Linked DNA regions of Homo sapiens: region 1 is linked to region 2. The links come from fine-mapping of genetic effects on gene expression. A gene starts in region 2. The other region holds a variant in brackets. All regions are shown on one strand. Distances are from middle to middle. Region 1 overlaps AP1G1 (adaptor related protein complex 1 subunit gamma 1). Region 2 holds the start of AP1G1 (adaptor related protein complex 1 subunit gamma 1).

The links. PIP is the estimated chance that this variant, and not a neighbour inherited with it, causes the effect. A credible set is the group of variants that fine-mapping cannot tell apart.
Region 1: its variant is the best candidate, but not a certain one, in a credible set for the expression of AP1G1 in whole blood (TOPMed, PIP 0.72).

The regions. Positions count from the first base shown.
Region 1 is chr16:71,731,413-71,747,496 of GRCh38, forward strand. AP1G1 (adaptor related protein complex 1 subunit gamma 1) reads right to left here. Exons shown (of 23, transcript NM_001128.6): 17 at 15,176-15,280; 18 at 14,061-14,202; 19 at 13,732-13,858; 20 at 7,822-7,929; 21 at 7,530-7,690; 22 at 3,197-3,295; 23 at 1-1,747. The coding sequence ends at 1,646. Among named protein-coding and RNA genes, the nearest start is that of PHLPP2, 15 kb to the left of the region's middle. The variant G/A (reference allele first, on the strand shown) is at 7,480.
Region 2 is chr16:71,802,880-71,818,963 of GRCh38, forward strand. AP1G1 (adaptor related protein complex 1 subunit gamma 1) reads right to left here and starts at 5,955. Exons shown (of 23, transcript NM_001128.6): 1 at 5,884-5,955. It overlaps LOC124903714 (a long non-coding RNA gene), which reads left to right and starts at 6,079. Exons shown (of 2, transcript XR_007065110.1): 1 at 6,079-6,323; 2 at 15,183-15,479. RefSeq lists enhancers at 5,086-5,733, 5,677-6,366, 6,927-7,006, 15,419-15,468.

The sequences.
Region 1 (16,084 bases), 71 kb before region 2:
TGAAATGAAGGGGAAAAAAAGGGATATTTGTTTCCAGGTTTAAGATTGAAGCCATAGTAGTCATTATACTGTATTCAATACAGTAACAATTGCAAACATTGTAAGAGCAAGGTGGGCCTCACTTTTTCTTTCTTCAGTATATAAGACATGGCGCCTGAATACTTGAACATACATAGTACATTCAATGTGTACCACAGAGAGAGTCACCTCTACTTCATTCCAGCAACTCAATTTCAAAGTTTGATAACATATGGGTCCTTTCTAAAAAGCACTTGGCACTCTCACTAGTTTAAAAAGCTCAAGTCTTTGATGTGAATATTCATGAGATTCGTCTTTTAAAAGAGACCAATTTCTCAGACTGAGGAAAGGCTATTCCTACCCTATGGTGTCCGTAAGACCTCCTCTGACATAGGGGTATGGAAGCTACAAGGCTTCACTCCAACACCATAAAGTACAATATGGAAAGATTTCTTTAACCGTGTGGTCTTTATTTCAGTGCCAGTGTTACAGATACAACACAAATGTTCCAGTTAGAAGGAATTCAAACGGAATGCCAAGGTCCAAGCCAGGCTCAAGAAATAAAAAGGGAGGTTTGGAGTAATAGATAAGATGACTCCAATACTCACTCTTCCTAAGGGCAAAGGTACTTTTGATACAGAGTCTGATCTTTGAAACTGGTGAACTCCTCTTCCACCCATTACCATAGTTCAAACAGGCAAGTTATGGGCTTAGGAGCACTTTAAAATTTGTGGTGGGAATAGGGTCATTAATAACTATGAATATATCTTTTAGAAGGTGACCATTTTGCACTTTAAAGGGAATCAATTTTGAAAATCATGGAGACTATTCATGACTACAGCTAAAGAATGGCGAGAAAGGGGAGCTGGAAGAGCCTTGGAAGTTTCTATTACAAATAGAGCACCATATCCTTCATGCCAAATCTCAACAAAAGCTCTTTTTAACTCCATCTGTCCAGTGTTTACAAATAAACTCGCAAGGTCTGACCAGTTCTTGGTAACAAACATACATGTGTGTGTCTGTGTGTATACAGCAATGCACAGAAAAGGCTACCAGGAGCCTAATGCCTCTTTCAAACATTGGGGGAACCAGTAGAAAAAGGCAGGGCTCCCTAATGTCCATTATTACATTTCCATTCCGAATGCCAGATGTTAAAAGTGCCTGAAGATGGTAACCCAGCTAGTGAGGAATAAATACCCCACCTTGCCCAGTCCACAGAGAAACAACAGTAGAAAGAAGGGGCAACTCTTTGCTGCAGAGACAAAGTGAGTGTTTTTTCGCCATGGATTGCAGTCCTCTCCTCCAGACCAGCTGCTTATTTCCTCAGGGGCCCAGGGAATGTTGATTCTGGCTGTAAATGTGGGAGGGGTGGAGAAGTGCGGAAAAAGGAGAAGAGGAAGAGTGCAAAGTAGCCTCCAGAAGCAGCCAGCCTCAACAGTGGAGGAGAGGACATTAGTCTTTAACAATGCTTCAAGGTCAGCAGTAACTTTAGGAAAATCCTCCTCAGCAGTTCTCTTCAGCTCCTCATGCCCGTGGTACAGTTGGGGGGGACTTGCCAGCAATCACAACCTCCTTCCCAGAGTTCCTTTGATTGAGTGGGATAAAGAATGAGAATGGTGCCAAACCCTCATTGCCAGGACTGAGGGGGAAAGTTGTTCACCTCTGCTAGATCTTGCATTGCTGAGCCCTTGTGATTATATGTAAGCTTGATCCGCATTCGCAGCTGTTGCTATAAGAGGAAAAGAGAAGTGCAAATTATATACTGAAATGAAATCTCCAGAATCTGTCCGGTCCACAAATAGACTTTTAATCTTAGAGGTCAAAACTTAAAGCAAAGCTGTCTGTTAAGAATGACAGGTAAACAACAACAAAAAACACCCAGTACTCTAGGCTTGAGCCAAGAAGCTAACAATGTCATGCCACCAAGTTGAGAAAGCGCATCTGCAGAATACACGGTTAGCTTTAATCCTTGAACTGCATTAAAAGGACAGAACTCCTTGGGAGCATTTTTTCTTTTCTTTTCTTTTGAAACAGGGTTTTGTTCTTATTGCCCAGGCTGGAGTGCAGTGGCACAATCTTGGCTCACCGCCACACCAGACTAATATTTTTATTTTTAGTAGAGACGGGGTTTCACCATGTTGGCCAGGCTGGTCTTCAACTCCTGACCTCAGATAATACACCCACCTCAGCCTCCTAAAATGCTGGCATTACAGGCGTGAGCCACCATGGAGCATTCTCCTAGTAACATTTTGCTGAGTCCTTTTCAAAAAGATTCAAACCTTGTATCCAAGTCTCTTAAAAAATGAGGTGAACATATACTCATCGTACGCTCTCCATTCAGATACACTGTTGCTTTATCTGAAAAACCTACAGTAAATGTGAACATGACCTTTTGTTCCTAAAGCATAAAATTTTAAAAAATGACTTAACTCACAGGTAACAGCAGTAGTTTTAAGAGAACTCAATTAGACACTTTTTGTATGGCAGATTTCAAATACAAATGCACTAAGACATTTTTTACTCTCTGTATCAGATGGTCAAAGGAGTTTGTGCTTGTACTATAGAGGCCGATGCTCAAAATATAGTGAATAGCAGAGGAAAGGCAAGTGTTACAAGAGAAAGAAAGTATACTGTTACTTATGAGCAACTAGTAGAGCTCTATTAAAGAAATTCTCTGAACCATTTTCAAAAACTGAAAACCAACTGATTACTATTAAGGTGAGCTTATTTCTTTGAGAAGAGATAATAAAAATATTGCTTAATTTCAGTTTCTAAAGCTATTTTTCATTTGGCTGCTTCATTTAAAATGCCTCTATTTTTCTATTCATACTTAATAACTGTAGCAGTAAATGTAGGTATTTGGTTTCAACAAATGCTCTTACCTCAGATTTCAACTTGTGTATAAATTAAAATGTCTAAGCTTCTCCCCTACCCCCAAAAACCAGACCTTTAATCTAGCTTTTTTTGAAGTTGCATTTTAATAAGATGCCACTAAGCCACCTGATGTCTCTGGGTTCCATTTGTTATTTACAAAAGAGCAAGGAAGTTAGACCAGGCATTTTCATTGATCTCTTCTCTAACTATGAGTCAGAAAAACCTAAAGAAACAAAGCAGAATTTTATTTCGGGAAATATGCTTACACTTCGGCTCAGATATTGGCTACAAATGTGCTACTCACCTTCTGAGGGTTCAGAACTTTAATGACTTGTGTGATGGTCCCCGTGTTAAATGCTGGGACAATGCTGCTGCTAGGAGACAAGAGCTGCAGCTGGAATGTCTAGGGGGGAACAAAGGGCACTCTTCAGAAAAAGAATTACACAACGCTAGGTCAGAGATACCAAAAACCATTTAGACACCCAGATGATGGGTCAAGCAACAGATTTCACTACTACTAAGTTTTGCCTACTACTTGTTTTCTAGATATCAGGAATTCACAGCACGTGAGTTGACTCCCTGTGGTATTTGTAAAAATCCACTGTTCGGTTCTTTGATCATGACAACTAGTAATAAACCACATTCTCCTTTCTGGCAGAAGGAATTCTAGCCTACCTCTTTTCAAAAGCTGACCAATTCTTCTTCTGGCAACTTCACTTAATGGTAACTGATCAACTATGCAAGTAAAATATCGGTGCTTTTGGCTTAAAAAACAGCCAGAAAGAAATGAAAAGAAAAGCTTCCCAAAAATAGCAAACCAACATACTGGTCACCAACTATAAGCTTTTAGGCTTTTGTGTGATTGGATAACTGGGATGCAGAGACTTGAACTTTTGTTTTTTAAAGCCTGCATAATCTATAATGTGTCAGAGCCTCCTCTCCACATGACAGAAGGAACGGAAAGACTTGCAGAACCAGCCTATACAGCAAAAGACCTAGATAAGCCAAACAGTATTAATTTGTTGAATGCTGGTGGGGTTTATTTGCTTGCTTATAGAAATAAGAGTTGAAAGTGCTGGCTGGGTGTGGTGGCTCAAGCCTGTAATCCCAGCACTTTGGGAGGTCAAGGCGAGCGGATCACGAGGTCAGGAGTTCGAGACCAGCCTGGCCAACACAGTGAAACCCCGTCTCTACTAAAAATACAAAAATTAGCTGGGCATGGTGGCACATGCCTGTAGTCCCAGCTACTCGGGAGGCTGAGGCAGGAGAATCGCTTGAACCCAGGAGGTTGTGGTGAGCCGAGACTGTGCCACTGCACTCCAGCCTGGGCAACAGAGCAAGACTCCGTCTCAAAAAAAAAAAAAAAGTGCTATATAGGGCAAGCTAGGTAAACCATACTGTACTACGTAGCTATTGTATGAACTAGCATTTGAAAATCTTTCCTAAAAGTAGATTAAACTTCTAAAATATTTGAGAGAGAGAGACACTAGTCTTCTCTAGGGCCAAAAGTTGCAAGAGTGAAGATTCACTCTCAATGTACAGATATATTACACTGGGGGCTGGGCACGGTATTCCCAGCACTTTGGGAGGCCAAGGCGGGCAGATCACCTGAGGTCAGGAGATCTAGATTAGTCTGGTCAACATGGCAAAACCCCATCTCTACTAAAAATACAAAAATTAGCTGGGTATGGTGGCGCATGCCTGTAATCCCAGCTACTCAGGAGGCTGAGGCAAGAGATTTGCTTGAACCCAGGAGGCAGAGGTTGCCTGGGTGACAGAGTGAGACTCCATCTCAAAAAAAAAAAAAAAAAAAATATATATATATATATATATATATATATATGGTCTTATTCATAATTCTGCCACATTAAAATTATGTAAGCTAAAGTATTATTCATTACTACCATATTTCATTAAATGTAAGATACCAATCGTAATTCACACCATTATTTTATGTACCACTGAGATAGAAAACATGCTGCCCACTGAATTATGACAAGATACCAATTTTTAAATGTATCCTAATTTTAGAAACATTAAAACACGAAATTAGTACATAGTAGAACCTATAAAATATGACTTTTTTTTTTTTTTTAGATGGAGTCTCGCTCTGTCGCCCAGGCTGGAGTGCAGTGGTGCGATCTCGGCTCACTGCAAGCTCCATCTCCCAGGTTCATGCCATTCTCCTGCCTCAGCCTCCTGAGTAGCTGGGACTACAGGCGCCCGCCACCACGCCCGGCTAATTTATTATTTATTTATTTATTTATTTATTTATTTATTTATTTATTTATTTATTTTTTGAGACGAGTCTCGCTCTGTTGCCCAGGCTGGAGTCCAGTGGGGTGATCTCGGCTCACTGCAAGCTCCACCTCCCGGGCTCACGCCATTCTCCCGCCTCAGCCTCCCAAGTAGCTGACACTACAGGCGCCCGCCACCACGCCCGGCTAATTTTTTTTTTTTTTTTTTTTTTAGTAGAGACGGGGTTTCACCGTGTTAGCCAGGATGGTCTCAATCTCCTGACCTCGTGGGATCCGCCTGCCTCGGCCTCCCAAAGTGCTGGGATTACAGGCGTGAGCCACCGCGCCCAGCAAAATATGACATTTTAAGTTGAAAATACATTATCATGTTGCACTGTACAGTACACCACCAAAAATGTCATGTTTTAATAGCAGAAGTGATAAGTCACTAGAGCAGCAGCCTAAAGTAACAAGTATAAAACCTAAGTTGAAGAAACTAAATATACTGAGCACTGAACAGATGAAAAGTGCTTCAAACAGTGCCTGATTCAAAAAACTTATTTATTCCTTTAAGCAACCTTAGGAAGTGGCTATCATTATCACCACCCTCTTTGCAAATGAAGACACTGAGGCATAGAGGTTCAGTGACTTTCTTCATGTCATACAACTACTACTAAAATCCAAACAGAATGGCTCTAGAGTTCATTAGTGGTCTTTCACCAATTGACACTACTGCTCCCCTTTTTTTTCTTCTTTTTTTTGGACAGCGTCTCACTCTATCACCCAGGCTAAAGTGCAGTGGCATGATCTTGGCTAACTGCAACTTCCACCTCCTGGGTTCAAGTGAGTCTCCCACCTCAGCCTCCTGAGTAGCTGGGACCACAGGCACGCACCATTGCACCTGGCTAATTTTTTGTATTTTTGGTAAAGATGGTGTTTCACCATGTTGCTGAGGCTGGTCTCAAACTCCTGAGCTCAAGCGATCCACCCGCCTCAGCCTCCCAAATTGCTGGGATTACAGGCGTGAGATACCGTGTCCAGCTAACTGCTTCTTAAACATCTAAATTATTCTGGCTCCTACAAAGTGTAAGCAAAGAGGGTTGCATGAGAGTCAGAGGATGGGGAAAAAATAAAAAAAGACTGCAAAGTCAGCAGTACCCACAAACAAAGAAAACATCCTCAATTTCCAAGTCCAAGTGTGTTGTCGGAATGTCTAAATGCCATATTTCACATGCCACTGCCAAGATTAGGTTAGCTTAGTCTAAACCAGTGGTTGGCAAACTATGGCCCACTGGCCAAGAATCGCCCAACATCTGATTTTGCAAATAACATTTTATTGGAACAGAACTATGTTCATTCATTTACATGTCATCTACAGCTGTTTCTGTACTATAAGAGCAGAACTGAGTACCAATAAAGACCAGATAGCAGCCTAAAATACTTACTGTCTCATCTTTTTAAGAAAAACTACCCACTCCTCATTCTCAACTTTTCTTTATTTAGAACTCTTTGTTTGTTTGTTTTGAGATGGAGTCTCGCTCTGTCACCCAGGCTGGAGTGCAGTGGCATAATCTGAGCTCACTGCATCCTCAGCCTCCTGGGTTCAAGCAATTCTCCTGCCTCATCAGCCTCCCGAGTAACTGGGATTAGAGGAACCTGCCATCACGCCCGGCTAATTTTTTTTTTTTTTTGTACTTTTAGTAGAGACGGGAGTTTCACCATGTTGGCCAGGTTCTCGAACTCCTGATCTCAAGTGATCTGCCTGCCTCAGCCTCCCAAAGTACTGGGATTACAGCCGTGAGCCACTGCACCCGGCCTCAAGATTTTTCACTATTCATAAATGAACATAAATATCCTTAAACTAAAATTTGGTGTAAACCAAACCTTGATTCACAAAAACAGTTACTGTATCTATAATAAATTGGATGTTAACGAAGGAGGAATGTTTCTCTCATTTATGTATCAAGAGAGAAAAAATTTCAATTCTGATCTGGTTAACTAGAAGATAATACCAGATAGACAAAGTCTCTCATCTTACTTAACTTTAATCCTATGCCATATTTTATGTTTTTAGGTCTTTAACACTGTATTACTAAAGCCTAACCTATCCTCAATGCCCTGAGCATTAACTGATCACCTCGTAGAATTCTGCTCTCACTACTATTAGAATTGTTTTTCTTTATCCTACAATGCTAACCATCAGAATACTTGTAACCTAGTAAAAATTATTCACTAAAAATGATATGCTTCCATGAACCATAAGCTACATTATTGTTAGTTTGAATTAAGTCTACAAATTTAATCTGTAAACATTAAAACATATCCTTTACCAAACACATGAAAAAAAAAA[G/A]CCAGCCAATCTTTAATCAAAGGAAACATCTAAAGAAGACATTGTAGTACCTTTGGTACTGCAGCTTGGAAAACAAAGTCCGTCATATCTAGCTCTGTGCTGTTGGAGGCCTGTATCGTTATCACTGTTACACTGGGGTTGGTATTTGACCGTTCAAAGGTGAATTCTATCTTCAAGCCATTCTTACTGTATGCTGTGATGGAGGGGATGCCTGAGAAAGTACAGGAAGATAAGTCTTATTGTAGTCAGCCTAATGCTTGCAGAATTATTACTTCTTTTTCTTAATAACCACATCTCATTACTCAGTGCTCCATGTAATGATGGTAACAACAGTCATCGTACCTGCAGCAATATCATTGAAGAGAGGCTGTGATGAAAGCCCATCCAACAAGAAGGGGGGCTGGGATATCTGTGGGACTGAGGCAGGGGCAGGAGCAGCAGCTGGAGCACCTAAAGGAAATATTTTAATGGAAAGTTAACCTTAGGCAGCATGACAAAGCTTACCAAGAAATTATAGGGAAAATTATTTCGGTCTCAGGTTAAGGAAAGATTCCTTAAACAAGATGCAAAAAGCATAGACCACAAAGAGAAAGAACTAAAAACTCAAGTACTTTAAAACGAGCAACTTCTGTTTATTAAAAAATACTGTAAGAAAAAGTACAGTCTGAGCAACATGGCGAGACCCTGTCTCTACAAAAAAAAATACAAAAATTAGCCAGGCATGGTGGTGTGCGCCTGTAGTCCCAGCTACTTGGGAGACTGCAGTGGGAGGATCACTGGAGCCTGGAAAGTTGAGGCTACAGTGAGCTTGCACCACTGTACTCCAGCCTGGGGGACAGAGCGAGACTCTGTCGCAAAAAAAAAAAAAAAAGTAAAGAGAGAGAGCCCACAGACAGGAGAAAATGTTTGCTATACAGTAATGAATGGATAAGTATCCAAACGATAACTGTCTTCTATAAAACCAATAAGAAACAGATAACCCAATTTAAAAGTGTCAAGATATAAAAACACGCAAGTCACAAAAGAGGAAACCTGAATGAAAAGGGAATCTTACAAACAGATGCTCAATTTTACCAGTAATGATGGAAGTGGAATTTAAAATTATAGTGAGATACTACCTCATGTCTACCAGAATGGTGAAAATTTCGATGTCTGATAATTCCAGATGTTGGCAAGAAGATGGAACGATGGGAAATTTTAAGCTCTGCTATAGGAAGGTAAACTGGCACAACCAATCTAGAGAGTAATTTGGCAACAGTAGAGTTGAACATCAGTATATCCTTAAACTGAGGTTTCTCAACCTTGACAGTAATAGCTTTTAGGCTTCCTAATTCTTTGTTGTAGGGGGCTGCCTTGTTTATTGTAGGATATTAAGTAGCACCCCTGGGCTTTTATGCATTAGACGGTAGCATCCTCCCAGTTGTAACAACCAAAAATATCTTCAGACACTGCCAACCCCTGGAGGGCAAAATCTTCCCCAGTTGAGAACCGATTACCCCTTCTTAGGAATGCTTTTAATTAATCCTTGCATGTGTTCACTGGGAGATACATCCAAAAGCATTCATAGCAGGAACACTCCTAATGGTGAAATACTGGAAACAACCAAAATGTCTGTCATCTTGATAATGAATAAGTAAACTGATATATTGATATACTAAAATACTACACATGTACAACAGTAAAAAGTGAATTCACTAGAAATACACTTAACATGGATTATTCATAACTCATTCTCACAATTACAATGTTTAGCAAAAAAAGGTGCAAAAAAGAACACATTCAGTTGGATACCTTGTCTAAAAAGGTAAAAATTGGCAAAATAATACTACATACTATATCAAGAAATGCACAGGAATGGCAAACACCAATGTTAAACACTACTTTAGGATAGACAGTAGTTACGTCTGGAATCAAAAAGAAATGGGATGAGAGGGAAATACACAAAGAACATCAACCCTCTTAATATTTTATTTTACAAACTAGGTAGATCAAAACATTCATTAAATTTTGTAGATGTTAAATGCTGTATAATAAAATTTTCACACACACACACGCACCCTGTGAGGGGTGGTATAAAGTGGGGTGGGAAAAAGAAATAGATTACCATTCTTATTTAATCTTTCCAAATAAGAACAACTTGACAATCATACAATAGAAGATAATTCATAGAACATGAGGGATATCAAGATTCGAAGAAGAAGCATAAGGAAATTCAGTAAAATTAAGAGAATGTATTTAATATTTAAATAGATTTCAAACTACTTGTGAAATTAACTGAAAATATGCCATTTAAAAAAGAACTATCACAATGAAATAAAGGAAGGCTAGAATATCATCTTTTTTTAAGAAATTGACAGCAAGAATGAGGGGGAAAAAAGATACTAAAGAATACTAGAAAAGTAAATGACAGGCTGGGCGCGATGGCTCATGCCTGTAATCCCAGCACTTTGGGAGGTCGAGGCGGGTGGATCACCTGAGGTCAGGAGTTTGAGACCAGCCTGGCCAACACAGCGAAACCCTATCTCTACTAAAAATACAAAAATTAGCCGGGTGTGGTGGCACGCGCCTATAGTCCCAGCCACTCGGGAGGCTGAGGCAGGAGAATCGCTTGAATCTGGGAGGCAAAGGTTGCAGTGAGCCAAGATCACACCATTGCACTCCAGCCTGGGTGACAGAGCAAGACACCATCTCAAAAACAAAAACAAGTAAATGACATATTAAAAATTAGCAAAGAGAATAGAAATACGGATGGCTAAGCAAGCACGAGAAGCTAAAATAAATGCAAACACCATTTGTGCAGTCCAGCAGATTATCAATGAAGCAGACAAAGAAATATTCATACAGTTCTCCTAGTCTAAAAAATCAAATCGAGAAAATTTCCCCCAATTCCCATTTTCAAAACAATTTTAGAAATGTGTTCTCATGGAAAATCAGAGGCTACTCAAGATACAGGCAGCATATAGGTCCCCAACTCCCTCAAATTTTCACTTTTCTTTGTCCTGTAAAAGTATAGCAAGGTAGTTTAGGAGAAGAGCAGAAACTTACTGCTCCAAACCCTTTAAAAACACATGTTAAATCTATTCTGAATTTCTACTGACTTAAATTTCTATATAATGGGGTAAAACTGTAATGATAAATTAAGAAATCTAGAATTCAAAATTTTAAAACTTAATGTAAAAAGTGGAAAAACATCTTTAAAACACATTATGAATAAGGCAAGAAAACCCAGACTTTTTAACATTTTATCATTTTGCTTTAACATATAACACTAGGAAAACAAGACAGTAGGAACAAAAAGAAAAGACTCCACAATAAATGAGCTAAGGATACAGGAATGTTCAGAAAGGAACCTCATCTATAATACAAATATGTGAATAAATATTAAACATTCTCTGTGATCAAAAAATAATAGGGCCTCTCTCTGCTGACCAAGCCTGGCAGAGGGCTACAAAATTTAAAAAATAATAATAAAAATAAAATATAATAGGACCAAATTTTCACCCAATAGGGCTTTTTAAAATGATAATATACAATGCTTATGACTGTGCGGTTAAACATATAAATTGAGGAAAAGGTAAATAATATTTACCAAGTGCCTACTATGTATCATGCACTGAATAGGTCAATGGGCCTCACAAATATCTTATGGAGTAAGTATTAATCATCCTAATTTTAACCAGATTCAGAAAGACTAAGTCACTTAGTCTAACAAATTAATCTAAAATAAGAACAAATTGATGTAATATTTGTTGAGGCCGCTAGGTAAGAAAAATCTAGAAACAAAATACCCCATACTGGCTGGGTGCGGTGACTCATGCCTGTAATCCCAGCACTTTGGGAGGCCAAGGCGGGAGGATCATTTGAGGTCAGGAGTTCAAGACCAGCCTGGCCAACATGGTGAAACCCCATCTCTAATAAAAAAATACAAAAATTAGCTGGGCATGGTGGCACGTGCCTATAAATCCCAGCTACTCGGGAGGCTGAGGCAGGAGAATCACTTGAACCCGGGAGGCAGAGGTTGCAGTGAGCCGAGATCGTGCTGTTGCACTCCAGCCCGGGCAACAAAGCAAGATTCCGTTTCAAAAAAACCAAAAAAAAAAGCCAAACTACCCAATACTAACGAACTGAGTAAACAGAGCAAATTTGTTGATAAAGTATTAGTCACCTAAAATTATAATTATGAAGGCTATATATATTAACATGGAAATACTAACATATTAGGTGAAGTATATGCTATGGTTTAACTGTGGGGTTGTTTTTTCTTTGCCGGTTATCCAGTACAGCTTTGACATTTGAGGATTTGAAATTGACCATTTGTAAATGATTCATAAGTACATGACAAGTAACATTTTGAAATTTTGTTAAGACACAGACATAAATCCTATACTCTGTGACTCCACTGTATTAGGAAAAAAAAAAATCAGCCTGTGGGAATGAGCTTAGCTAACCATCCAACTTGTTATCCTATGTCTATTTTTTACTCAAGGTCATGTGTGCTTTAACTCTTCATTATCCTCTTAAAGAAGACAGCAAAACCCCGTCTCTACTAAAAATACAAAAAATTAGCCGGGCATGGTGGCATTCGCCTATAATCCCAGCTACTCAGGAGGCTGAGGCAGGAGGCTCACTTGAACGCAGGAGGCAGAGGTTGAAGTGAGCCGAGATAATCCCACTGCACTCCAGCCTGGCTGACAGAGTGAGACTCTGTCTCAAAAAAAAAAAAAAAAAGACACTTTAACCTTTCAGCTATACTTTACACTGAAATTTAGGATAGAAGTTGTAGGCCAGGCGTGGTGGCTCACACCTGTAATCCCAGCACTTTGGGAGGCTGAGGTGGGTGGATCACGAGGTCGGGACCAACCTGGCCTACATGGTGAAACCCTGTCTCTCCTAAAACTACAAAAATTAGCCAGGCGCAGTAGCAGGCGCCTGTAATCCCAGCTATTCAGGAGGCTGAGGCAGGAGACCTGCTTGAACCCAGGTTGCAGAGGCTGCAGTGAGCCGAGATCATGCTACTGCACTCCAGCCTGGGTGACAGAGTGAGACTCTGTCTCAAAAAAAAAAAAAAAAAGGCCAGGCGAAGTGGCTCACGCCTGTAATCCCAGCACTTTGGGAGGCCGAGGCAGGGGGATCATGAGGTCAGGAGTTCAGGACCAGCCTGACGAACATGGAGAAACCCCATCTCTACTAAAAATACGAAAATTAGCCAGGGCATGGTGGTGCGTGCCTGTGATCCCAGCTACTCAGGAGGCTGAGGCAGAAGAATCGCTTGAACCCGGGAGGCGGAGGTTGCAGTGAGTCGAGATCGTGCCACTGCACTCCAGCCTGTGCAACAGAGCAAGACTCCATCTCAAAATAAAAATAAAAGTTGTATTGGACTCGGGTTTATCATATTGCTGAACATGTCAATTACAAATGACTGGTATATATGAACAGAAGAAAAAATATTCCCAAATGAAAAGTTATGTTTGAATATTATGAGTGATTGCCCTTCAGTTGCTTTAATTACAGAAAGTGTGAAAGGGAAGAGGTAAGTAGCAGGTTAACATCTCTCCACAAATGGCCACAGCTACTGAAAACTAACCATTAGTGGGAAGGAACCAAGAAGAAGTCATGTCTTGGGACACTAAAAGCAAAGGTGATACGGGATATATTTTTTGAGCTTGAAAGAGAAAGTGTGTTTTTTTTTTTTTTTTTTTGGAGACAGAGTCTTGCTCTGTCACCCAGGCTGCAGTACACACTGGCGCGATCTCGGCTCACTGCAACCTCCGTCTCTCAGGTTCAAGCGATTCTCCTGCCTCAGCCTCCGGAGTAGCTGGGATTATAGGCATGCACCACTTCACCCGGCTAATTGTTGTATTTTTAGTAGAGATGGCGTTTCACCATGTTGGCCAGGCTGGTCTAGAACTCCTGACCTCAGGTGATCCACCTGCCTCTGCCTCCCAAAGTGCTGGGATTACAGGCATGAGCCACTGCGCCCAGCCAGGAAAAGTAGTTTCTATCTTAAAACACTATGAATAATTTATTCACCCAAAATTAGGAGTTTGCCTTTAAGAAATCCGTATAAATTATCTTTAGAGCATTATTAGTATACAACATATAACCCGGATATTGTGAAGATTTGACTCTTGCTTCTGATTTAGCCTCTCCCATCTTCAAATGATTCACGTGCTGGAAAGTCTGGGTTCAGTTTAGTTTTTCCCTGAGGCCTCTATCTTTTCCCAGGTATTAAATAGCTCCAGACTGCCTCACCTGTAAGGTTGATGTCTCCCAGCAAATCAAGAAGTTCTCCACCAGCAGAAGATGGTTTGCTTGTAGGCGCAGTTGGAATAACAGGTGTTATGTCATTTCCTCCCAACAAATCCAATAAATCATTGGCCTAAACAAGGTAACAACACCTCAATTCATTATTATTTGATTTGTCTAGTATACATCTAATGCAAAGCTCTTTCAATATGTAAAAATAAGGAAGGAAATCATCAACCAACCCAGGAACATTAAAGGGACTCAGCTAAGAGACAAGCTGTAAGGGACTATAAAATCGTAAGAAGCCCCAGATGAGCAAGTGAAAGGCTGGCTACCTGGCTGGTGGGCTGTGGCCCAGAGGGTGGCGGTTTGGTCTCTAGTGGAGCTGGTTCTGTCTCTCCATTTGTCTGCACAATCTCAGTAGGGCCATTTGTGGTCACTTTTTCCATGACAGGCATTCTCTCAAGTAGGGCAGACCTAGAAGAATCTGAAGTGGTTAAATTCTAGGCAGTTAACCTAGATTCCCTACCCAAAATAATCACCATTAACTATGTTGAGCCCAAGCATGGAGATCTATCTCCCCTCCCCATCCAACACACACACTAAAATAGAAGGTAGATTACAAGAATACATGACCTAAATTCCTGGCTGGATTAAGGGCAGACAAAAAAATCTTGAATAAACAGACTGCCCAGCTAAATCCCAAAGCATATATTTCAGTGGTAGAGAGACTGAGATGAAAGAAAGGTAAATCCATAGGTATTAACAGTCAAGAAGATACTGTATAATAGAAGAATAAAAGATGACCCAAACACTAGAATGTTAACAGTAAAAGAATTTGAATGAGATTATTTGTCTTGAAAAAATACAACTCCCACTTCTTTTTTTTTTGAGACAGAGTCTTGCTCTGTCGCCAGGCTGGAGTGCAGTGGCATGATCTTGGCTCACTGAAACATCCGCCTCCCAGGTTCAAATGATTCTCCTGCTTCAGCCTCTCGAGTAGCTGGGAATACAGGCATGCGCCACCATGCCCAACTAATTTTTTTGTATTTTTAGTAGAGACGGGGTTTCACCATGTTGGCCAGGATGGTCTCGATCTCTTGACCTCGTGATCTGCCCGCCTCGGCCTCCCAAAGTGCTGGGATTACAGGCGTGAGCCACCACGCCCGGCCTCCCACTTCTTAACTAAATAAAATAGAAAATAAAGCAAACTTTCCATATCAAAAAAAGTGTAAGTGTTGGAGGTGGAATGAAAGAGAGTTAATTTATTTCTTTAGAGACTAGGCAGAATAGAAGATGGACAAAACAGAAGCAGACAAGCAATTAGAACTAAATAGGGATACGAGGAACAATTAATAAAGCACAAGGAATGAATCTTCTTTATGGATTACCATGACAATTTAGTCAGGATGCTAAGAGATACACGCATTGCTTAGTTTCTTTCGCTCACCTCATGTGGTCATATTTCTTGAAAAGTGCATTATATTCTACTGCCCTCTGCTGGAGTTCCACATCAATGCTGCTTCCGTAGATGGAAACCACTTTCTTAATTCGGCTATAGATAAAATGACAAACGAAATAAAATACCCAAAAGAAAATTCACAAATAAGCAGAGATAATGTTTAATAAGCCAGAATTTTCTGGTTAAAATACTGAAATACTCATTTTTTCTTAATTTATATAGTTTTTCAAAAACAAAACACTTTACTTTCATCCATTTATCTGACATTCGCATTATACTATTCTCATTGTAACACTAGATTTTTGTCTGTTAAATATGCCATCCCCATTCAGCAACAATGATGGTGTGGAAAAAACACATATATATATGCCACTCCCTAAACTTTGCTAGACAAAAGTACCAACTATTACTTTGCCACAAAAGAAATTTGTACTGTTCATTCTCTTCTTTGATAATTTTTAAATAATTTTTAATCTATAAAAGGGTCAGAGCCTCAAAATGTTGACCCCAAATTCTTCCAGTTCAGAATTTTAAAAGTAATTCAATACCATTTTTTATAAGACTTCACATTTAAAAGTGAAGCAGAAAGACTACAAGAACTACGTTGGCCTTAAATATGCTTGGGTGGGAAAGTGACCTGAGAATCTACTTTATTCAAAAAAGCAAAGAGGAGAATTAAAAGATTTAATCACCAAAACATTCATGATTTTATTCCTATTAAGACTTGTCAAAATATAATAAACCAAAACCTTGGCCAGATTACAAGGTCAGGAGTTCGAGACCAGTCTGGCCAAAATGGTGAAACCCCATCTCCACCAAAAAATACAAAAATTAGCCAGGCATGGTGGTGTGCGCCTGTAATCCCAGCTACTCAGGAGGCTGAGGCAGGAGAATTGC
Region 2 (16,084 bases):
GTTGAGAAAACACGTAACATCTTTACATATCTTTGAAAGATTTAAAATATTTTAGCCAGGCTCGGTGGCTCACACCTATAATCCCAGCACTTTGGGAGGCTGAAGCAGGTGAATCACCTGAGGTCAGGATTTCGAGACCAGCCTGGCCAACGTGACAAAACCCCGTCTCCACTAAAAATACAAAAAGTAGCCAGGTACAGTGGTGCACGCCTGCAGTCCCAGCTACTCGGGAGGCTGAGCACAAGAATCGCGGGAACCCAGGAGGTAGAGGCTGTAGTAAGCTGAGATGGCACCACTGCACTCCAGCCTGGGTGACAGAGTGAGACTCTGTCTCAAAAAGAATAAATAAATAAATAATAAGATGTTTTTATTTATAAATTACAAAAGTCACATGTATTTTTTCCTCATCTTTTAAAAAAATGACTTCTTCCTTCTAAACCTACTTAATTTGTTGCCAACATTTATGATTTACTAATTAAATCTCTCCAATGGTCTGAGTAGGCTTTTTTTTAAAGTAAAATTTCCAAGTACCTAGTGAAAAAAAGCATTTCTCATTTCAATCATCTCATCCTAAACCTTGCCCTTTTATGCTAAAGTGTTAGTTAATGCTGACTCAACACATTTGGCAAGTGAGTTTTTTTTCTCCCACTTCTGGACCCTTCAAACTTTAACCAGTTTTTCCAGCAACCAAAACTCATGCCATATTAAGTGTATTGTGTTACTAGGTCAGTGAAGAAAAAAACTTAACACGTATCTTCAAAGTAAAAATGACACCTCATTCATGCCTGTAATCCCAGCACTTTGGGAGGCCAAGGCTGGTGGATCACTTGAGCCCAGGAATTCAAGATCAGCCTGGTCAACAGGGTGAAGCCCTGTCTCTACTAAAAATACAAAAATTAGCTAGGCATGGTGGCGCACACCTGTAGTCCCAGCTACTCGGGAGGCTGAGGCAGAAGAATTGCTTGAACCAGGGGGCGGAGGTTGCAGTAAGCAGAGATGGCTCCGATGCACTCCAGCCTGGGCAACAGAGGAGGACTCCGTCTCAAAAAAAAAAAAAAAAAAGACACCTCTTTTCCCTTTTCTATTTCTTGACCTCATTGAAATAAAATTTTCTATACAAAAAGGCAACTGTAAAAATGCTACTACATTTTGATAAACATATTTTATTTATTTATTTTTTTTTTGGAGACAAGAGTCTCGCTCTGTCCCCAGGCTGGAGTGCAGTGGCGTGATCTCAGCTCACCACAACCTCCACCTCCCAGGTTCAAGTGATTCTCCTGCCTCAGTCTCCCGAGTAGCTGGGACTACAGGCGCGCACCATCATGCCCAGCTAATTTTTCTATTTTTTTGTAGAGATGGGGTTTAACCATGTTGGCCAGGATGGTCTCGATCTCCTGACCTCGTGATCCACCCGCCTCGGCCTCCCAAAGTGCTGGGATTACAGGCATGAGCCACCTCGCCCAGCCAACAAAGATCATTTCAAAACCTGTAAGCCAAGAAATACAAAAGATTTCTATATGCTCTCTTAATTTTTTTTTTTTTTTTTTGAGACAGAGCCTCCATCTGTCACCCAGGCTGGAGTGCAGTGGCGTGATCTCAGCTCACTGCAACCTCCACCTCCCTGTTCAAGCAATCCTCCCACCTGAGCCTCCTAAGTAGCTGGGAATGCAGGTGCACATCACCATGCCCGGCTAACTTTTGTATTTTTAGTACAGACGGGATTTCATCATGTTGACCAGGCTAGTATCAAACTCCTGACCTCAAGTGATCCGCCTGCCTCGGCCTCCCAAAGTGCTGGGATTACAGGCATGAACCACTGCACCAGCCTGCTCTCTTAAGTTTAAAATTGCTTGTGGGCAAGGCATGGTGGCACACACCTTTAATACCAGCACTTTGGGAGACAGAGGTGGGAGGACCTCTTGAGCCCAGGAATTTGAAACCAGCCTGGGCAACATGGCGAATCCCCGTCTCCACAAAAAAATAATAAATCAGGCGGCACATGCCTACAGTCCCAGCTACTTAGGAGGCTGAAGTGGGAGGATCACTTGAACCTGGGAGGAGGTCGAGGCTGCAGTGAGCTGAGATTGCACCACTGCACTCCAGCCTGGGTGAAAGAGTGAGAACCTGTCTCAATCAATCAATCAATAAAAATAAAATTGCTTGTTACTTATAAGCTGAGAGGAGTTGAAAAAAAATTGTTTGCTACTTTCAACATTATTCTGCATTAGAAACTGAGTAAAAGCAACAGAGAATAAAGAAAGCCAAAATCAAGAACCGAAAACAGACTGAACGCAGTGGCTCCTCCTGCCTGTAATCCCAGCACTTTGGGAGGCCAAGGTGGGTGGATCACTTGAGCTCAGGAGTTCGAGACCAGCCTAGCCAACATGGTGAAACCCCGCCTCTACTAAAAATACAAAAATTAGCTGGGCATGGTGGCGCACGCTTGTAATCCCAGCTACTCGGGAGGCTGAGGCAGCAGAAATCACTGGAATCCAGGAGGTGGAGGTTGCACAGTGAGCCGAGATCGAGCCACTGCACTCCAGCCTGGGAGACAGAGTAAGACTTTGTCTCAAAAAACAAACAAAAAAGAACTGAAAACAATTCATAAAGCAAGGACAGACTAAATTACAAACACCTAAAACAGTATTTTTAAATGTTCTGAAGCTCTAAGTAAGAGTTTTAAAGTTTTGATAGCAATTAAGTCCTGCTATATACACAAAATTTTAAAATCCTCATCAAATGCAAATAAGGGGATTAAGCATTGTGGAAAATCTGTTTTGGTATGTAGATTGCCAATTCAATTTTTTTAATTAAAAATAATATCTTGGAAAATACTCATTCAACTTTTTAAATTTGTATAAATTAAAAGTTTTGGCCAGGTGAGGTGGCTCACACCTGTAATCTCAGCACTTTGCGAGGCCGAGGCAAGAGGATTGCTTGAGCCCAGCCTGGGCAACATGACAAAACACTATCTATACAAAAAATACAAAAATTAGCCCTGCGTGGTAGCACACGCCTGTAGTCCCAGCTACGTGGAGGGCTGAGGCAGGAGGATCGCTTGAGTCCAGGAGGTCCAGGCTGCAGTGAGCTGAGACCACTGCACTCCAGCCTGGGCAACAGAGTGAGACCCTGTCTCAAACAATAAAAATAATAAAAAAAAAAAAAAAGAGTTTTTATAAATCATAAAGAAGTTGGTTTTGTTTGCATACCACTGATTTTTAAAACTCCTTTTTTAAATAAACACTGGGGTGAAATATCACCAAGGCATTCCTGGCAAATTCTGTACTTTAAAGTTTCACTCTAAAATCTGCCCTCAAATCTAGAACTGCTATCAATGACAGAGGTCAGACCAAAGAACAAGCAACTGCCCCCAAAAGAAAACGGAGGTTTCCTAAACGCAAAGCAGACATTCAAATATGCACTGATCAATGGTGCACTAAACAACACTTTGCTAGGAATTTGTTAAGGCAAAAGGACCCTTTCTACAGTGAATGCAAACTATCTAAGAATGAATTTTTAAAAGTTTAATATTTTTAAATATTTTGGTAGAGACGGAGTCTCATTAGGTTGCCCAGGCTGGCCTCCAACTCCTGGGCTCAAGGGATCCACCTTCCACCTCCCAAAGTGTTGGGATTACAAGCATGAGCCACTGAGCGCCCGCCTGAATGACATTTAAATACCAATATATTAAAGCATGAAAAACACTGAGTTAACTAACATCTATGTGATAGCTCTTCTAACACCTTACTTGAAAAGTCTAAGTCAGAAATGGAACATTTCAGTAGTAACTGCGAGGGCATACTTACTAAATGAGTGAGCATTACATAGGTGTTCAGTGTTTGACAGTTCCTTTAAACCAAAAGAGAAAATTCCATTGCTTCAGGGTAATACAGAACTCACGTATCTAATAGTAACTAATATATTTTTGAAAAATCTGCTTAAATAACAAGATCACTGAGTATTTAAACTGAAAATATTGTTTTCTTCTGAGACATCATATGACCTATAGAGGAATTTATCTACAATCTCATTTCAATAACCTGATAATAATAATGCATCTATAAGTGGCTTAGCAATATTAAAAAGCTTGACTCAATTCAAGTTATAAATTTAAACTTCAACCACTAGACTGTGATCTCAAATAAGTTAATTTCTCTTTTGCAGATGTGAAAACCCAGGCTGAGATGAAATAAGGGTGATTCAATCACACTCGCCTAACTTGAAACGTAGGAAATGTATCAGTGAATAACTGTGAAATACTTTTTGCCAGGCACGGTGGCTCACGCCTGTAATCCTAGCACTTTGGGAGGCCGAGGCGGGCGGATTACCTGAGCTCAGGAGTTCGAGATCTGCCTGGGCAACATGATGAAACCCCATCTCTACTAAAATACAACAACAAAAAATTAGCCGGGCGTGGCGGCGTGTGCCTGTAGTCCCAGCTACTTGGGAGGCTGAGGCAGGAGAACTGCTTGAACCCGGGAGGCGTAGGTTGCAGTGAGCCGAGACCGTGCCACTGCACTCCAGCCTGGAGACAGAGGGAGACTTCGTCTCAAAAAATAAATAAATAAAAATAAAGACATACTTTTTATTCAAGCATGCTAGACTGCAAACATGCCTTTAGAATAAAAGTGACGAGATTACGAGTACTTAGAGGGTTCATATTTTTCAAACGTGAAAGTTAGGGTGTGTGACAAGTTAGGTATTTGACAAGTATTCTAGGGAACGGTGGAAGTGAATATTTAAAATTCAGCTATCCCCAGAAAAACCCAATACATGAAATCATTACAAGTATTTTTTAGAATCAGTCAGCAAAGATCATTACTGTACAAACACTTCAAAGTTAAGGTCACTAAGAAAGCACTAACTCCTCCCTTCTGTTAACTAATCACTGTAAAGCAGCCCAACTCTCCTTTCTACCTACCTCAGATTAATATTTTTCTCCATGGACAGATTTCCGTGCTCAGGGATATATAATAGGGGAGAAAAAAAAATACCACACAAGTGTCAGTAAGCACCAAAAAGCTAAGTATTCAGCACAGGGAGGGAATCCACATATGAGAAAACATTTGACAGCTCTTGCCTCCCAAAAGCCATTTAATCTGCTTCATAAACATAATCTGCTTCATAAACATTACCCTGAGCGAGTGGTTCGATGGATCTCCTACACCGAGTCCTAACCGGGAAACACAATCAACCGAACCGTCCCGACTCTTTCAGGCAATCAGGAAGACCGGGAGAATTATTAGACGCTGACGTCCGCAGGGCCAGGAGCTGAGAAAAGGGTAAACAGTATACTCGCAGGTAGGTTGAAAAAAACAAAACAACAACATATACACACACACACGAAAAATTGGGAAAGAAGTTGGTCGGAAGGTTAGAGAGAGGCGAGGCCGATGTCCGGTTCCGAGAGGACGGCACTGCAGGGGCAGGCAGCGATTAACTGGGCATTTGGATATGCTGGGAGTTATCTGACAGACCTGACACGGGTACAAGACACAAGAACGCTGATACGTGGCTCAGAGAAGACACGCGGGGGTGGGGCCCGCCCCGCTAAACCCCAGGCTCCCTGAATGAGCCCTCAAAGATCGCAGCCTGAGAAAGTCAAGGGTTCAAGGAGGCCCGTACCGGCGGGGCAACGCCACAACACGGAACGCCGCGGCGCGCGGAACCTCCCGGTCCGAGGCCTCGGGGTCGGCCCTCCAGAAGTCGGAGCAGCCCCTGGGGCTCCCGGCCTCTCCTGGCCCAGCTTCTCTGTCTTCTCTTCTCAACACCCACAGCCTGGGACTGGACCCCTGAAACTGAAAGGAAGCTTCCGGTCGAGCGCCCGCGGCAGCGGCGGGGCAAAAGCAGCAATATGCTCTCAGCGCCGGGAGTGACACTCACCGGCCCGAAACCTCGAATGAAACCAGCAGCTCCGGGGGCGGCGGCAGCAGTGGCAGCAGGAACCGAACATCCAAAATGGCGGCTCCCTCGGCCTCACCACCGCTACCGCAGGCGGAGGGATCCTGAGGAAGGAGGGAGTTTTTAACTAACTTCACACACTATTGAGGAAACTTCGCTCCCTGTCCTCCTCTCCTGGTCGTTTCCGTGTCCTCGTACTGCAACTTATCGTGCCTTTTCTCTCGAATTATCCAAGAACTCGGACCCTGCCGAGGACTATTTGCCAAGGAGGAGGCGACTGCTCCTGGCAGAGCGACGCAAACGTAGCAAGGATCGGGGCTGTCACTGATGACGCGAGACGCTGCTGCCGAGTCACCGCTGCGATGAGTCTGAGCGAGAAAGATCCGGCCTACCCCGTAGCGGACGGACATTGGTTCCGCTTGGTGAGGGGGTAGGGGGGTGGGGGGTAGGGGGGTGGGGGGGTAGGGGGGGTGGAGCTGGGCTACCAGGAAGCGGTGGAGCCACCTGGAGGGGGCGGAGCTAAGTCAGGTAGCCCAGGAAGTGAGAGCAAGCGAGACAGGTGGGGGCGGAGAAGACAGCAGGGCTGAAAAGGTCTTCGTCCACGGGAATCCCGAACTCTTTGCTGTCTCCTTTAAGATTTTTGCTTTCTTTATAACTTAAGGAGCATGCTCCAGGTGGTATTCTATGGTTTTATGGTGTCTTTGCAACATATTTTATGAAGAGTTAAGAGGATGACTGAAAAGAATGGATTCCACGCCCGGTACCGCGGTGCTTGCACTGCTCAAGTCACTTAAACTCTCCAGGGATTCAATTTCCTCATATGTAGAAAGAAGACTTGGACTCATGTTAGCTGAAACCCTTACAGAATGGGCTTTCGGTCTATGACTCCATGAATTAATAACCAGGGCCAAAGAAAGTCTAACCAGACAGTTCCTAACCTGATAAATAATTACTAACATATGACGTGAGTCTTTTCCATGTGAATGTAAAGAGGGCCTGATATCTTGGCCTGTTTAAAGGAAAGGTGACCTACCTAGACTAAAATCCTTCTGCTAGATTGGCAACAAAGTACAATACAACACAGCAGCAGGCTGGGTGCCAAAGAGAACAGAACCAACCACACAAAAAAAATTTTTTTTTTTTTTTTGAGACAAAGTCTCGCTCTGTTGCCCAGGCTGGAGTGCAGTGGCGGGATCCCGGCTCACTACAACCTTGCCTCCCGGGGTCAAGCAATTTCTCGTGCTTCAGCCTCGCAAGTAGCTGGGATTACAGGCTCCCGCCACCACGGCCGTCTAATATTTGCATTTTTAGTAGAGAGAGGGTTTCGCCATGTTGGCCAGGCTGGTCTTGAACTCCTGACCTCAGGTGATCTGCCTGCGTCGGCCTCCCAAAGTGTGGAGATGACAGGTGTGAGCCACCGGCCTGGCCAGAACTAACCACAAATCTTGAGTTTAGGATTTGGGTGTCATAGAGAGAAGGTTGCACTTTTTTCCTTAGTCATTTTCATGCAGGGATTTCAAAACACTTAACAAAAATTGCTCTAAGTAGGCCGGGCACAGTGGCTGACGCATGTAATCCCAGTACTTTAGGAGGCCGGGGTGGGCGGATCACCTGAGGTCAGGAGTTCGAGACCAGACTGGCCAACATGGTGAAACTCCATCTCCACTAAAAATACAAAATTAGCCGGGCATGGTGGTGGGCACCTGTAATCCCAGCTACTCGGAAGGCTGAGACAGGAGAATCGCTTGAACCTGGGAGGCAGAGGTTGCAGATAGCCGAGTCTGGGCGACAGAGTGAGACCCTGTCTCACAAAAACAAAAAAAAATTGAACCAAGTAGGCCCATCTGTACAATTTTGTCCCTGAACTACTGGGGCATGCCAAGTGGCTGGAAAGAAAGGAGGCCATGGGTGCGATAATAATTATCATTTGTATTATTAAATATTGATATCACATTGTTCATAAGGCACTTTCATGTGTATAATCTAATCTGACCCTCTGGACAACCTCCTGAGTCAGGCTAGGCAAGCATAAGTAACTTAGTTTTACAAATAAGGAAAAAGAGGCTCCAAGAAACTAACTTGGCTAAAAGACACATCCTCTCCCCTCCTCCACTGGGGTTCTGCTACAGAGCTATAGAGTGCCTTTTTTTTTGAGACAGAGTTTCACTCTTGTTGCCCGAGCTGGAGTGCAATGGCGTGATCTTGGCTCACTGCAGCCTCCGCCTCCCAGGTTCAAGTGATTGTCCTGCCTCAGTCTCCCAAGTAGCTGGGACTACAGGCGCATGCCACCACGCCCAGCTAATTTTTTGTATTTTTAGTAGAAACGGGGTTTCACCATGTTACCCAAGCTGGTCTCGAACTCCTGACCTCAGGTGATTCACCCACCTCGGCCTCCCAAAGTGCTGGGATTACAGGCATGAGCCACCATGCCAGGCCAGAGTGCCATTTTATAAATTAGCATAGGGTACCACAATCTTCCACCACCCCTACCTACCCACCCACCTACCTACCTACCTACCTACACACATACCTACACTCTCAGGGTGGATGGAGTCAACCCCCAACAAGTGGTTTAGAGAACAGAATGTTTACAGAATTCAGATCCTCTGCCATGCTGCTACTGTACAGTGCAACCATGGACTACAAGGCTAGTAAATAGTGGAATGAAGCCAAAACACAATTTCCTCTGAGGTATAGCTATGCAGGGAACACAGGCCAAACTTAGTTTGGGGTTTCCACATAAGTAAGAAGTTTGCAGGTTGCAAAGCAGAGTTAGCTAAAGTATTCCGTTTGGAACACCACAAAAAAATGCTTAGAGGTCAAATTTAAATGTGTATCATTGTGAACCACAAAAGAAAAATTAAGCCAGCTACCTAAGGAGGAGAGAGCTTTTTTTTTTTTTGAGACGGAGTCTCACTCTGTCCCCAGGCTGGAGTGCAGTGGCACGATCTCAACTCACTGCAAACTCCGCCTCCTGAGTTCACGCCATTCTGCTGCCTCAGCCTCCAGAGCAGCTGGGACTACAGGCGCCCGCCACCACACCTGGCTAGTTTTTTGTGTTTTTAGTAGAGACGAGGTTTCACATGTTAGCCAGGATGGTCTTGATCTCCTGACCTCGTGATCCGCCCGCCTTGGCCTCCCAAAGTACTGGGATTACAGGCGTGAGCCACCGCTCCCGGCCCCGGAAAGATCTTTTTTCCTACCATATCGAGTGCAGAGCGTTAAAGAGTTTTAAACATTAAAAACTAAACCCTTTCTCAGTACTTTTTAACTTACATTTCTCTTTATTTTGTTTTTGTTTTTGAGACAGAGTCTCTGTCGCCAGGCCGGAGTGCAGTGGCATGATCTCAGCTTGCTGCAACCTCCACCTCCCGAGTTCAAGTGGTTCTCCTGCCTCAGCCTCCCGAGTAGCTGGGACTACAGGCACGTGCCACTACATCCGGCTAATTTTTGTATTTTTAGTACAGACGGGGTTTCATCATGTTGGCCAGGCTGGTCTTGATCTCTTGACCTTATGATCTGCCCGCCTCAGCCTCCCAAAGTGCTGGGATTACAGACGTGAGCCACCGCGCCCAGGCCATTTATCTTTATTTATAATTACCAAACCCTTCTTCCATGCAACTAAAATTAAAAGCAGTTGCCCCAGCTGGGCACAGTGGCTCACACCTGTAATCCTAGCACTTCGGGGGGCCAAGGTGGGAGGATCACTTGATCCAAGGAGTTTGAGAACAGCCCAGGTAACATAGTGAGACCCTATCTTTCTTCCTTCCTTCCTTCCTCCCTTCCTCCCCCCTCCCCGCCCCTCTTTCTTTCTTTCTTTCTTTCACGGAGTTTCACTCTTGTTGCCCAGGCTGGAGTGCAATGGCACAATCTCGGCTCACTGCAGCCTCCACCTCCCGGGTTCAAGCAATTCTCCTGCCTCAGCCTCCTGAGTAGCTGGGATTACAGGCATGCGCCACCACGCCCAGCTAATTTTGTATATTTTAGTAGAGACAGGGTTTCTCCATGTTGGCCAGGCTGGTCTCGAACTCCTGGCTTCAGGTGATCCACCTGCCTCGGCCTCCCAAAGGGCTGAGATTACAGGCATGAGCCACCATGCCCGGCCTCCTCATCTTTTAAATAAATGAATAAAATAAATAAATAAAAGCAATTGCCCCAATATGTAGCATAGTCACATTATCTTGGAATCTTTGGTTTCCATGGCTAGTGATTTAAGTTTAGAAAGGCTTACTCCCCATCTTCTCAAACATAATCCCTAATTCCAGATAAATAAATTACAGCACATCTATAAAAGGTAATACTATGCTACCAATAAAATGAAAACCTTATTATTATAGTATGGCAGACTTTAAAAGGAAATATTATAAAACAATGTTATAAAATGAGCTTGCAAAGTGTATATTGAGCCACCTCAGGCTCCTGAGTAGCTGGGACTACAGGTGCATACCACCATGCCCGCCTAATTTTTTTAAAAATTTTTTGTAGAGACACGGTTTTGCCATGTTACCCAAGCTGGTCTGGAACTCATGGGCTCATGCGATCCTCCCACTTTGCCCTCCCAAAGTGCTGGAATTACAGGCGTGAGGCACTGCCATTGGCCAAAGATTATTATTTTTATGGGTTTGTTTACTACTGATAACTTACATGCATAGAAAAAAATTGAAGGACAAAACTAAAATTTAAAAATGGCTTTTTTGGGCCGGGCGCAGTGGCTCACACCTGTAATCCCAGCACTTTGGGAGGCCAAGGCAGGCAGATCATGAGGTCAGGAGATCAAGACCATCCTGGCTAACATGGTGCAACCCCGTCTCTACTAAAAATACAAAAAATTAGCCGGGTGTGGTGGTGGGCGCCTGTAGTCCCAGCTACTCGGGAGGCTGAGGCACGAGAATGGTGTGAACCCAGGAGGCGGAGCTTGCAGTGAGCAGAGATTGCACCACTGCACTCCAGCCTGGGGGACAGAGCGAGACTCCGTCTTAAACAAAACAAACAACAACAAAAAAATGGCTTTTTTGGATGATGGGATTACAGATAATTTTTACTTTATTATATTATATTATATTTTGTTTTTGCAACGAGCACACCATTCTTTTAGTTAAAAAGAAAATTCTTATAAGAAAATGCAGTTTTATGGATTTTTGTTTTTATTTTATTTATTTATTATTTTGAGACAGAGTCTTGCTCTGTTGCCCAGGCTGGAGTACAGTGGCGTGATCTCAGCTCACTGCAACCTCTGCCTGCCAGGTTCAAGAGATTGTCATGCCTCAGCCTCTCGAGTAGCTGGGATTACAGGTGCCTGCCACCACACTCAGCTAATTTGTGTATTTTTAGTAGAGATGGGGTTTCACCATGTTGGCCAGGCTGGTCTGGAACTCCTGACCTCAGGTGATCTGCCCACCTTCACCTCCTAAAGTGCTGGTATTACCGTGCCTGGCCAATTTTTGTTTTTAAAACAACAATATCCTGAAAGTGTTAAACAAACTTAGTAAGAGATAATAACTAGGAAAAAAATTTTGGTTTTTTTTTTTTTGAGACAAGGTGTTGCTCTGTTGCCCAGGCTGGGGTGCAGTGGCACAATCACAGCTCACTGCAGCCTCGACTTCCCGAGCTCAAGTGATCCTCCCACCTCAGCCGGGACTACAGGTGCATACCACCATACCCAGCTAATTTTTTTTTTTTTTTTGTAGAGACGGGGTTTTGCTATGTTAGCCAAGCTGGTCTGGAATTCTTGGGCTCAAGTGATCCTCCCACCTCACCCTCCCCAAGTGCTGGAATTACAGGCATGAGCCACTGTGCTTGGCCAAAGATTATTATTTTTATGGTTTTGTTTACTACCGAGGACTGCTTCAATTTAACAATGAATAGGCCGGGCACGGTGGCTCACACCTGTAATCCCAACATGATTACTTTGGGAGGCTGAGGCAGGCAGATCACCTGAGGTCAGGAGTTCAAAACCAGCCTTCCCAACATGGCAAAACCCCATCTCTACTAAAAATACAAAAATTAGCCAGGCATGGTGGCGTACACCTGTAATCCCAGCTACTCGGGAGGCTGAGGCAGGAAAATCACTTGAAAATCACAGAAGTCGCAGTTAGCCAAGATCGCGCCACTGCACTCCAGCCTGGGCGATAGAGCAAGACTCCATCTCGAAAATAAATAAGTAAATAATAATAATAACAACAATTTAACAAAGAACAACAACAAAAAATAAAACTGAAGAAACATTGGCTAGCAGACAGACCACTTAGATGCCAGTCTTGGCTAGGTTTAATTCATTTTTTGCCCAGAGCAAGGTGTTAAACATCTCTGAGCCTGTTTACTCAGCTTTCCAATATTTATTTGTCTTGCCTGTTCCAAAATGGATTTAGAGTGGCTTGTTATGCAAAAGGGATCAGCTACATGAAAGCACTTTGAAAAGCCTGAAGCATCATAAGAATGTAAATACTGAAATTTTTGTGCCGCCTCATCATTCAACTAAAGCATTTACTGACTGCCCTTTATAAGTAACAGTAGTACAGTGTGTCTTACATTTACAAAAGTATTTTCAGGCTGGGCGCAGTGGCTCATGCCTGTAATCCCAGCACTTTGGGAGGCCAAGGTGGGTGGATCACTTGAGGTCAGGAGTTCGAGACCAGCCTGGCCAACATGGTGAAACCTTGTCTCTACTAAAAACACAAAAATTAGCCGGGCATGGTGGCACGCACCAGTAATCCCAGCTACTCAGGAGGCTGAGGCAGGAGAATTGCTTGAACCCATGAGACAGAGGTTGCAGTGAGCCAAGATCGCGCCACTGCATTCCATCCTAGGTGACAAAGTGAGATGCTGTCTCAAAAAAAAAAAAATTAATTAGTTGGACATCATGGCATGTGCCTGTAGTCCCAGCTACTCAGAAGGCTAAGGCAGGATTTTTTGACACCAGAAAGGTAAGGCTGCAGTGAGCAATGATTGCACCACTGCACTCCAGTCTGAGTGGCAGAATAGGACTCTGTCTCAAAAAATATATTAAAAAAAGAAAGAGTGAGAGAGAGAGAGAAACAAAAGGAGGAGGGGAGGGGAGGAGAGGCTCAGAGAGATTAAATGATCGGTCACACTTTCATACAGTAGAGGCCAGACTCAAATGTAGTCCTTCCATCTCTGGATTTGTCTTCTAGCCCATATAGTAATCATTCAAACAGGCTACCTGATTATTTCCCCTATGCCACACTGTCCTGGGTGCACCAGAATCTGTAATAGACATAACAAAAGAGACTGCCCCTATCCTTCAGATAATTACAATCTCATTGAGGAAAACGAGATTTTTTAAAAATCCAAAAATATAAAATAAGCCAGTGATATCATTCAGCAGATAAGTCCTAGTTCAGAAAGAGAAGAAAACGGAGAGGTCGCTGAAGTTCTAGTTCAGAAGGAGCAGAAGAAGGAGAGGTTGCTGGGAGCTAGAGCAGTGAAAGATGGCTTTTGGAATACATAGTATCTGGTGGAATCTGGGGTACTAGAGGGGAACTGTCTTGTTTGGGCTTAGGATGCAGTGAGTTTCTTTCTTTCTTTTTTTTTTTTTTTTTTTTTGGAGACAAAAAAAAAAGGGTCTCGCTATGTTGCCCAGGCTGGAGTGCAGTGACACAATCTCGGCTGACTGCAACCTCCACCTCCTGGATTCAAGTGATTCTCCTGCCTCAGCCTCCTGAGTAGCTAGGACTACAGGGGTATGCCACTGCACCCAGCTAATTTTTGTATTTTTAGTAGAGATGGGGTTTCATCATGTTGGCCAGGCTGGTCTCGAACTCCTGACCTCGTGATCCTCCCACCTCAGCCTCCCAAAGTGCTAGGATTACAGACTTGAGCCACCTCATCCGGCACAGTGAGTTTCTTAAATGATTCGGTCAGTATCAGCAGCTGAAGCCCATGTGACCTTTAGAGCAGATGGGGAAAGCTCTCTCTGAAGAAATGCAGTTAGCATCTTTCACAAAGAACCCTTCCTGCCTCTCCACGTGCCAGAGATCTCAGCCGAGAAAGGAGAGTGAAGAGGGGCACAGCCGTGTAAGAAATACAATGACGTGAGTCAAAGAGGCGGCTCCACTGGCCTGTTTTGTTATCCTTTGAGTCACACGAATCTATAAATAAGACTGAAAGACAGAGAGAAATTAGTCTGTCTGCTGTTTCTGTAATGTTTTCACAAAAAGCATTTTCACAATTCTTTTAAAGCACAGTCCCTAATCACGATGTATGCTGGCCTGAGACAAGAGTTTAGGAATTCATCTTTAACTTATGACAAAAGCCAGAAAGGATGTAAAAATTAAAATTCCAACAGCCAACTCCATACACTCTTTGACCTCTTACCAAGAGCATTAGGAATTCTGCTATATGTAGAAGAGTAAAGACCAAAGCCCGGAGGACATTAGCTTCTGCCAACCTTCTTCTTTGTTTCAGAATTTTTTTTTTTTAAAGAGGCAGCCCTAGGCCGGGCGCGGTGGCTCGTGTCTGTAATCCAGCACTTTGGGAAGCCAAGGCAGGTGGATCACCTGAGGTCAGGAGTTCAAGACCAGCCTGGCCCACATGGCGAAACCCTGTCTCTTCTAAAAATACAAAAATTAGCCAGGCGTGGTTGCAGGCACCGGTAATCCCAGCTACTTGGGAGGCTGAGCCAGGATAATCACCTGAAACCGGGAGGTGGAGGTTGCAGTGAGCCGAGACTGTACCACTGCACTCCAGCCTGGGCAATAGAGTGAGACTCCATCTCAAAAAAAAAAAAAAAAAAAAAAAGAGGCAGCCCAAAGTGCCACCTGAGATGCTTTATGTTACAATATTTTCTTTTTCTTAGAGTAGTTTTTCTTGACTTGTAAATTATTCTGTATTATTTTGGCACTTTTGGAGGGAAAAACTTTACCAGGTATGAGACTGCAATCAACTTAAATTCCAAATTGAGGAAATGGTGCCATTCTCCTGTTAGGAATGACAAAATTAAGGTCACTAGAAGAGAATGCACCATCTAGAAACAAAGCAGGATTTCTGACCCATTGTTTTCTACTCAAGTAATTTTATTTCCTTAATATGGACACCATTAAGCCAGGAGCAGTGGCTCATACATGTAGTACCAGCTACTCAGGAGGATGAGGCAGGAAAAACCCTTGAGCCCAGGAGTTTGAGACCAGCTAGGACAGCATAGTGAAACCTCATCTCGAAAATATGTATAAATGTGGGCACCGTCATTTGTCTAGAAAAATCTATAGTAAATTGTTTTGTTTTCCTTTCATTGCAAAGTCTCATACTTGTTCTTCCAAAATCAGTTCTATGAGTTGCTTTAAAATTAGCCTGGGACGTCCAAGAAGTGTTAAGACATCTGCAGTAACTGGGGCAGCCAGTCCCTGGAGGCCAACTCAGGGAACAACAAACTCCTTCGCCAAGCCGTCCACACATGCCAGCTGATGGTCTAGGACCCAAGTATGTGCCAAGAGTGAGGTGTCTTACTTCTAAGGAGAGGCAAGCAGTTTGCTATGCAAGCGGGTCGCTGGCCCTGGACCTAAAGATCTTCTCTCTAACTCCATATTCTTTAAATAAACTTGTCTTTTATGAGGAGTGGAAAATCTTAGAATGAAGCATTCAAAATGAAACTGATTTTTTTTTTTTTTTTTTTTTTTTTTTGAGATGGAGTCTCGCTCTGGCACACAGGCTGGAGTGCAGTGTTGCAATCTCGGCTCACTGCAACCTCTGCCTCCCGGGTTCAAGCTATTCTCCTGTCTCAGCCTCCTGAGTAGCTGGGATTACAGGCGCGTGCCACCACGCCTGGCTAATTTTTTTGTATTTTTAGTAGAGACAGGGTTTCACCATGTTGGTCAGGCTGGTCTCCAACTCCTGTCCTCCTGATCCGCCCGCCATGGCCTCCCAAAATGCTGGGATTACAGGCGTGAGCCACCGCGCCCGGCCCCAAACCGGGTTTTTAAAGAGTCATTGGTTTATAGGTATCACCTTCTCATATGCAAAAGGAGGAATGTAAACTCCCCCGGATATGTAAAAGAGAATTCTGAACCAAAAATTTTGCATAACCAATAATTACATCTAAAAATTAATTTGGCTTTTGGGTATGAGCCTAAAACGAAACTTAAAAATAAAGTATATTGAAAAGAAAAATGGGGCCGGGCGCGGTGGCTCATACCCCTAATCCCAGCACTTTGGGAGGCCAAGGCGGGTG